Homo sapiens: one gene and its partner. The protein of the gene in region 1 purifies or fractionates together with the protein of each later gene. This does not show direct contact. Each region holds a gene or a part of one and is shown on either strand. Other genes may lie near its edges.

Region 1 (3,814 bases):
AGTCAGATTTCATCTCAGTGGCTTCAGGGAAGTCATGTTAAACTTTGTGAGATATATCTCGTGAGAGAGGCCACCAGCAAGAGGAAAATTTATCTTTTTGGAAGCTACTTCTCCTCTCTGATCAGCTATCACTTGAGCATTGGCCCTGCAAGATGGTTGGTGAATTACTTCCACTCATGTGGGTGTGGTTGCTGTAAAGATAGAAGACAAATTTTGATGACAAGAATTCTTTGCCAGGTGTAGTGGCTCATGACTGTAATCCCAGCACTTTGGGAGGCAGAGGTGGGAGGCTTGCTGAAGCCTAGGAAATTGAGACTAGCCTCAGCAACATAGCAAGACCCCATCTCTACAAATAAAAATAAAAAATTTAGCTGAGTGTGGTGGTGTGTACCTGTGGTTCCAACTACGTGGGAGGCTGAAATGGGAGGATTGCTGGAGCCAGGAGGTCCAGGCTGGGCTGCAGTGAGTCGTGATCACACCACAGCACTCCAGCCTGGGCCACAGAGCAAGACCCGGGGGAAAAAAAAAGAATTCTTGCTTAGAAAAGTACCCGATTAGTGCTCTAGTTATTTTTTTCCCCTTAGGACTTTCTGAATAAGAATTGGAGTAACATGATGTTATGAATTATTTTCAGGCTTGTTTTTGGGGCGTTTGGTTTGTTATGGCTTTTGCTTATGGGATAAGAAACAGTTACAGAAATGAGAACAATAAGTTTAAATCATTTCAAAGCTCATGCATAAATATAAATGTGTATTTTATATAAACTGAAAATTCTAAGTAATTAAAATGTAAAATCCTCCATTTTCTCATCCCTAAATAATAGCCACAGTTTACATCTTGGTGTGTATTTCTTTTTTTAGGTATAGATGTAAACATAAATACATTTTTATAATATAGAAATGTAATATTCCTACTGATTTGTAACTTTTTTTCACTGTGAATTGAAACCTTAGCATCAAGCAGAAATCGCCCTCTATGTCTTTGACTTGAGGTGTTTTTTTTTTTTTTTTTTGAGAGAAAGTGGCCTAGTTTCTCTGTGTTCTAACTGTATCACCTACTGCTGCTTTGGAGACCCTCTGCCCCAGGATGACTGGCTGCTAGGGCCTGTCTTAGTTTGTTCCTCAGTAAAATAGGGGTAATACTACCCAACCTCATACCCTTGCATGATTGAGCTAATGTGTATATGATGTAATACCTGACACATAGTAATTGTCGAATAAATGTTGTATTCATTTCTGTCTTTAAGGCTCTATGAATAGTCTGTTCCCTTTCCATTTGCTGCTCTCTTGGATATACTTTTTCCTTTCTTCGCTTCATTATCCCAATCCCACTTTAGGGCCCAGTTCAAGTTCCTTAAGCTTCTTTCTATCCAACCCAGTCTTTCTTGTGTACCTAAATTTTGGAGGGGCCCAATGAAACATGTCTTTCAGATGTTAGTAACAAAATGTACGCATTGCCAGTGGAGCTGGGCATTTTAAATCACTAAATGTTCAAGGCAGCCAACCTTTGGTTAATATTGTTCTTTCTTCTTGTTAAAATATGTTAATATACCTTCACATCACATTTGTGAAATGTGCCAGGCATGGTGGCTTATGCCTGTAATCCCAGCACTTTGGGAAGCCAGCTTGGGAGGATTGCTTAAGTCCAAGAGTTCAAAACCAGCCTTGGCAACATAGTGAGACCCTGTCTCTACAAAAAATAAATAAATAAAATAGCCAGGTGTGGTGGCGTGTGCCTGTAGTCCCAGCTGCTCGGGAGGATCACTTGAGCCCAGGAGGTTGAGGCTGCAGGGAGCCATGATCATGCCACCGCATTCCAGCCTAGGTGAAAGAGTGAGACACTGTCTCAAAAAAAAAAAAAATTGTAAACGTGATTGAGACACTGTATGTTATTTTGCATTATTGCAAATCTGTTTCTGTCTTGTGTCCCCAGCTAGATTCCAAGTACCTTGAGAATAGCGATCATACCTTATAAAACACAGAAGTGTTCTGCAGATGAAAATTGGAGTGAATGAACACACTATGACAAAGGAGAATTTTGTTGGAGCATTTTGTGGGGAGGGTCATCTGGGAAATCTGGATCTATTCTTTTCTTTTTAAAATTTTTATTATTTATTTATTTATTTTTATTTGAGAACAGGGTCTTGTTCTGTCACCCAGGCTGGAGTGCAGTGGCATAGTCACAGCTCACTGCAGCCTTGACCTCCCTAGCTCAAGTGATCCCCCTACCTCAGCCACCCAAGCAACTAGGATTACAGGCACGTTCACTACACCCAGCTAATTTTTGTATTTTTTGTAAAGACAAGGTTTGGTCATGTTACCCAGGATGGTCTCAAACTCCTGGGCTCAAGCGATCCTCCTGCCTCGGCCTTCCAAAATGATGGGATTATAGGCTTGAGCCACTGTACTTGGCCGGTTCTTTTTTTTTTTGAGACAGGATCTTGTTCTGTTGCCCAGGCTTGAGTGCAGTGTCGCGATGTGAGCTCACAACAACCTCCACCTCCTGGGTTCAAGCAGCTCTCCTGCCTCAGCCTCCCGAGTAGTAGGGATTACAGGCACGTGCCACCACACTTGGCTGATTTTTTGTATTTTTAGTAGAGATGGGGTTTCACCATGTTGCCCAGGCTGGTCTCAAACTCCTGAGCTCAGATGATCCACCCATCTCGGCCTCCCAAAGTGCTGGGATTACAGGCGTGAGCCACCGTGCCCGGCCGGATCTATTCTTTTCAAACGAATGAAATGTTAACTTTCTTGGTACACTTCCTTGGTATAATGCTGAACTCGTATAGTAACTCAAATGGGTATCTGCATAGATACAGGGGTTTTCGTTTTGTTTTTCCAATTTGCAGGAAATTATAGTGACTAGCGTAATAAAAACAATCAATGACTTGGGAGACAAAGGAATCCCTGAGTATCTCTCCTCTCATGCCCTGTGAATGAATAACAACTTTATGGCTTAGAGTCCTCCTGTCTTCCCTTTTCACCCCTCTAGTCCCTCCTCCGTCCATTTCTTGAAGGGAACTATGAGTGTGATAGAAGGTGGAGTGGGGATTCCCTGTGGCCTGAAACATTTCTTGCTTAGTCTAACTCAAAAGATCCTTTTTCATTTGTTACCAAAAATGTATTAGGTCCCTGTTGAAGGCTAGGCATGGGGTAACTGGTAGGGGAATACAGATATTTTTGAGTTCATAATCTGGTCATGTGGGAATTGCTATCTTTGTGATTTTGATTATTTCTTCCAGATTATTTTATTCAATAAATCTAGGAGACTCTGGGTTTTAAGGAGTCAGCATCTAAAAGTGATCTTGCAAGCCATGCAATGAATACTCAAAGTGTAGAGTAGTCCACAGAAAGAATAGGGAAAACCTAACATTTCTGTAAGATTTAAATTTCAGTATAAAATCTGGAACATTCTACTCGCAGTAGTATTTTAAATGTTGTATTTTCGTGAGTTTGTTAACCTTCGTTTTTTGTTTTTGTTTAACATTCTTGCATTTTAAATCAGGTGCAGCTATTGCTGGAGTTTACCGAGCAGCAGGGAAGGAAATGATACCATTTGAAGCCCTCACACTGGGCACTGGACAGACATTTTGCGTCTTGGTGGTCTCCTTTTTACGGATTTTAGCTACTCTATAGCATACATCCTTATGCTGAGATGTTGAACTTAAACTTTATGGAATCCTCCAAAAGAATACATTATGGAGTGTAGTGTTTTCTTAGTTCTTCAAAGGGAAGCAACTTGGATGAACAGGAACATGAAGGACAACACATCTCAGCCTTTTCTTCATTTTGAAGCTCCTAGAATTGAAGACTTA
Region 2 (3,814 bases), about 18 Mb from region 1:
CCTGTGCAGAAGCTGTGTGCAGGTGGGGTCTGGGGGGCTGTGCCATTTCAGGGATGCAGGATGGGCTTCCATGTGGCAGGGCTCCCAGGGAGGCCATGGAGGAGGCCGTGGGGAAGTCGGGTGGAAGTAGGGAGGAGAGGGGAGTGTGACAACAGAGCCCCAAACCCCAGCACCACCTCCTCCTCCCAGACTGGAGCTTGATCAGGGCTCAGCCCCCGTCCCCATGCTGGGGGTGGCCCTGTGGACCCCGCCTTCTGACTCACAGCAGATGGGGACATCATGTGAGCAAACCCAGCAGTCAGGGGTGACCAGACACAGCAACTGGGCAGATGGCAAATGGGGGGCGGGGCGGGCTGGCACAAAGGGGTCTCTCAAACCGGGTGGGGCGGGGCTGTGGCACGGCCTCAGCCTCCCAGGCCTCCTTTCTCCTGAGCCGTCACTTGGCTGAGACCCTGCCCCTCCTCCTGTCTCTGGTGCCCCATCTGGGGCTCCTTGAGGCCCCCAGGGGAGCCCTGTAGATTCTGGTCTTAGGTCTGGACTGCTGGGTAGAGGGGCCAAGGGTTGGGGAGTAGGAAGGGACACACATTTTCTGACCACTGCCCAGTGCCAGCCTGCCCTGGCAGGAGGTCAGCTAAGCCCCAAACTCTCCCTGGTTCCCTGATGGCTCAGCCTGGATGGGAGCAATCCTGGACCTTCCCTGACCTCAGATTCTGCCAGGCCCTGGGCTCAGTGCCTTGCACACGACACCCACTTTTCAGATGAGGACATTGAGGCAGGGGAGGCTTACCCAGTGAGCAACCCCACATCTTTGGGGATCCAGAATTTGGGCTCTTGTCCCTTGGTGGAGAGGAGGCTCCTCAGCCAGCCAGGCACATGCTCGTGTCTTGAACCCTGCCCCTGCCACTGCCAAATCCACGCACCTGTAGGGTGACAGGGCCCGTAGAGACAGCAAGGGTGGCTTGCCCAGGGAGAATCTTGGCTTTGTTTCTCTCTGGTTGTGGGAACATGGGCCTGTGCCTCGGTTTCCTCATCTGTAAACTGTGGATCACAATCACATCTGCTTCAGAGGCTATTATGAGCATGAAGAGAGTTGATAGAGGAAAGCATATGGGAAAGTGCCTTTCCCATACGTGGGAATGTTAAGCCTTTTTTTAATACCTCTCCCATTGGACAGATGGCTGTATTGAGGCCCAGAGATAACCTGAAATAACTGTGAGCACTTCTCCCTGCCCCCGCTACTGCTGGGAGAGCTGCGGCCACCTGGACACCAGTGGCGCTCACTCACCCACCTCCAGCCTGACTCGTGCTTTGGTGAGGAGGCCAGTGTGGTGGGCGTCGGGCTCCCGAGCTGGCGCCTGCGCAGGCTCAGGCAGTTTGTGGTATGCTTGGCAGTTCCAGGCAGAGATAAAAGCTCAGCCCCGGAGGAGCTGGCATGCTTCCGGGCACCGGTGGACAGGCCTCTCTGCATTAGTGGGAGATGGCCTGGCGGTGGGGAGATGGCCTTGCTGTCCAAGAGCCAGCCCAACCCTGGTGGCCTGAAAAGTTCTGCGGTGAATGGCTCTGGCTTGGCTTCCCAGACTCGGGGCCACTTACACCAACTGCAAAACAAGGAACAGTGAGATAGAGAGCCGCCTCTGCCACCTCCCAGGCCCTTTCCCCTCCCGTCCCCAGGTCTCTGTCCTCCTAGTACCCCCAGCCTGGATGCTCAAGGCCCATGGGGGAAAGCTGACTTTTGAGAGGAGCTGTGGAGACTTGCATTCCACTGCCAAAGATGACAGCTTCTCTGGACCCGTTTCCCTGCCTGTAAATGGAGATAACAATACATCCCTTTGCAGGGTTGCTGTGGAATTTGGGGCAAAAGTGGCTGCAAAGTATGTACCTAGCACAGTGCATGACTTCAAGAGGTTCTCCCTAAACCTCAGCTGGAGGTTTAATCTTCCAGGTCATGGGCTCATTGACTTAGGCTCAAATCCTTGAAAAATGACTTAGAGCAAGCGGCTGAATTTCTCACAACTTCATTACTTGGGCTGTGAAAGTCTCTGATACCTAAATGCGGCTTTGTGGGGATGAACCGAGACAGCCACACGTCATAGGGGCTCATGAGACGCAGACCCTGTCCCCAGCTGTCCCAGACCTTTGCTTTTCCATCCCTCAGCCAGGCTGCCCCCTAGGAGAGGCAGCACGAGGTGGGCTGTTAGGGGTGTGGGCTCTGGGGCTGCCTGATTCTGTCCCAGCTCTACTGGCTGTGTGGCCTGGGACAGGTATATTAACCTCTCTGTGCCTCGTCTTCCTAATTGTAAACATGAGGCTGGTAATGGCATCCTGAGAGGATTAAGTGAGCCTCTGTATTTTAAGTGCTGAGTGCAGGGCTGGGCACACCTCAAGTGCTATTGTAATTGCCCCTTCTGGGCCATGACCAAGCCTTGTTCTTAGAGAGCATTGGAGACTTTATCCGGAACAATGGTGCCATCCTCCCAGGATGTTACCGGGAAAACCACCAATCCTGTGACAGCTTCCCCTTTGGACATGCCCATTCCTGGGGTCTTGATCTGCTGCCCCGAGGCATTGTCCAGCCTGGGACTCCTTCATGTTCCCCAAGACCTGAGACCTGACCCAGGTTTTGGAGTGAGTTAATGTGACCCTGGGCTGGGGAGCTGAGCTGGAGCCATTACCCACAGAACCGCCGACCTTTCAAAGGACCAGAGGCCATGGCCCTAGCCCTGGAGAGGAGGCCTGGGTTCCAGTCGAGCTGGTTTCCTGGGACAGAACAGCACTGTGGTCACTTCTCTGCTGGGTGAGTTCACCCTAGGCCCCTGGGAGCTAGGCTGAGCAGCTGACCCCTTCTGGGTCCTTGGCTGAGTCTGGGCCTCAGGGTGTGGCTCTGTGGCTGGCACCCTGGGTCTCGGACCCTGTGGCAGGGGGTCAGACAACTGCCCAGACCCACCTGCTTTGATGGTGACAGATGCTAGGGGTGAGCCCAAGGGGCTGGCAGGGGCCCCTGAGTCATGCTCAGCCCTGTGCCCTCTGCCCACTGCTCCTCTGCTGTGTCACCATCTGGGCACGGGCCAAACAGTTCAGGGGCGACTCACAGCCCAAACTTCCGCCCCTGGGGCATACACTTCACTGCCTACAAAGACCCTCATTCAATCTTGAGTGCTGCTGGCCCTCTAAGACTTGAAACTTTATCCACATTTCACAGATGAGGAATCAGGCCCAAGAGCTCGGAGCAGTCAGTGGTAGCAGAGCCCGAACCCAGTCTCCTGCCTCTTAGCCTGGACTTTTCCCCAGAGTACCACAGATGGCCATTCCCATGATAGGTAGTGAGTTCCCCACCTTTGTAGGTGTTCAAGTGTGGCAGGGGCGTTGCAGAAGCAACTTTGGCATCGCATGGGGCTCCTCTTCATGGCTGCTTCCAGCCCTGAGCTTTCCTAGCCTTGGGGGAGATGGGCACCCAATTCCCACATTCCCCGGAGTCGCTATGTCCTTAAGCATCACATGGGTCTTTCTAGCCGCATCAGGCCATGCTTGTGGGCAGGTGGTGCCTCTATCTAGAAACCCTCTTCATAGCCTGGCTGTCTGGCAAGGTTCTTCCAAGGAACCTCCACCATGAAAGCCATGAATGCATCTTCAGAGACCCCTGTCCATGTGTAAATAGCTCAGTGGGCTGGATGGGAGGGAGCAGAGGGGGAGAGGGACCCAGCTGAAGAGGACTGGAGTGAACAGGGAGAGGCTGAGGGAGGTCAGGAGGGCAGGACACCCACCTCCTGAATCTTCAGGACCCCTTGCTCTCCCTTATCCAACAGGCTTGAACCTG

Evidence for each region.
Region 2: the proteins of TMEM170A (region 1) and ADGRG1 purify together in Homo sapiens (affinity purification with mass spectrometry; one large-scale study listed by BioGRID and IntAct). This does not show direct contact.

What each region holds. Positions count from the first base shown.
Region 1 is NC_000016.10:75,447,379-75,451,192, reverse strand, and holds part of TMEM170A (transmembrane protein 170A), read left to right. Parts: intron 1-3,504; coding exon 3,505-3,635; 3' UTR 3,636-3,814. UniProt on the Homo sapiens protein: Acts as a regulator of endoplasmic reticulum (ER) and nuclear envelope (NE) morphogenesis. Affects the ratio between tubular ER and ER sheets by promoting sheet formation at the expense of tubules.
Region 2 is NC_000016.10:57,631,348-57,635,161, forward strand, and holds part of ADGRG1 (adhesion G-protein coupled receptor G1 isoform b precursor), read left to right. Parts: intron 1-3,814. UniProt on the Homo sapiens protein: Adhesion G-protein coupled receptor (aGPCR) for steroid hormone 17alpha-hydroxypregnenolone (17-OH), which is involved in cell adhesion and cell-cell interactions.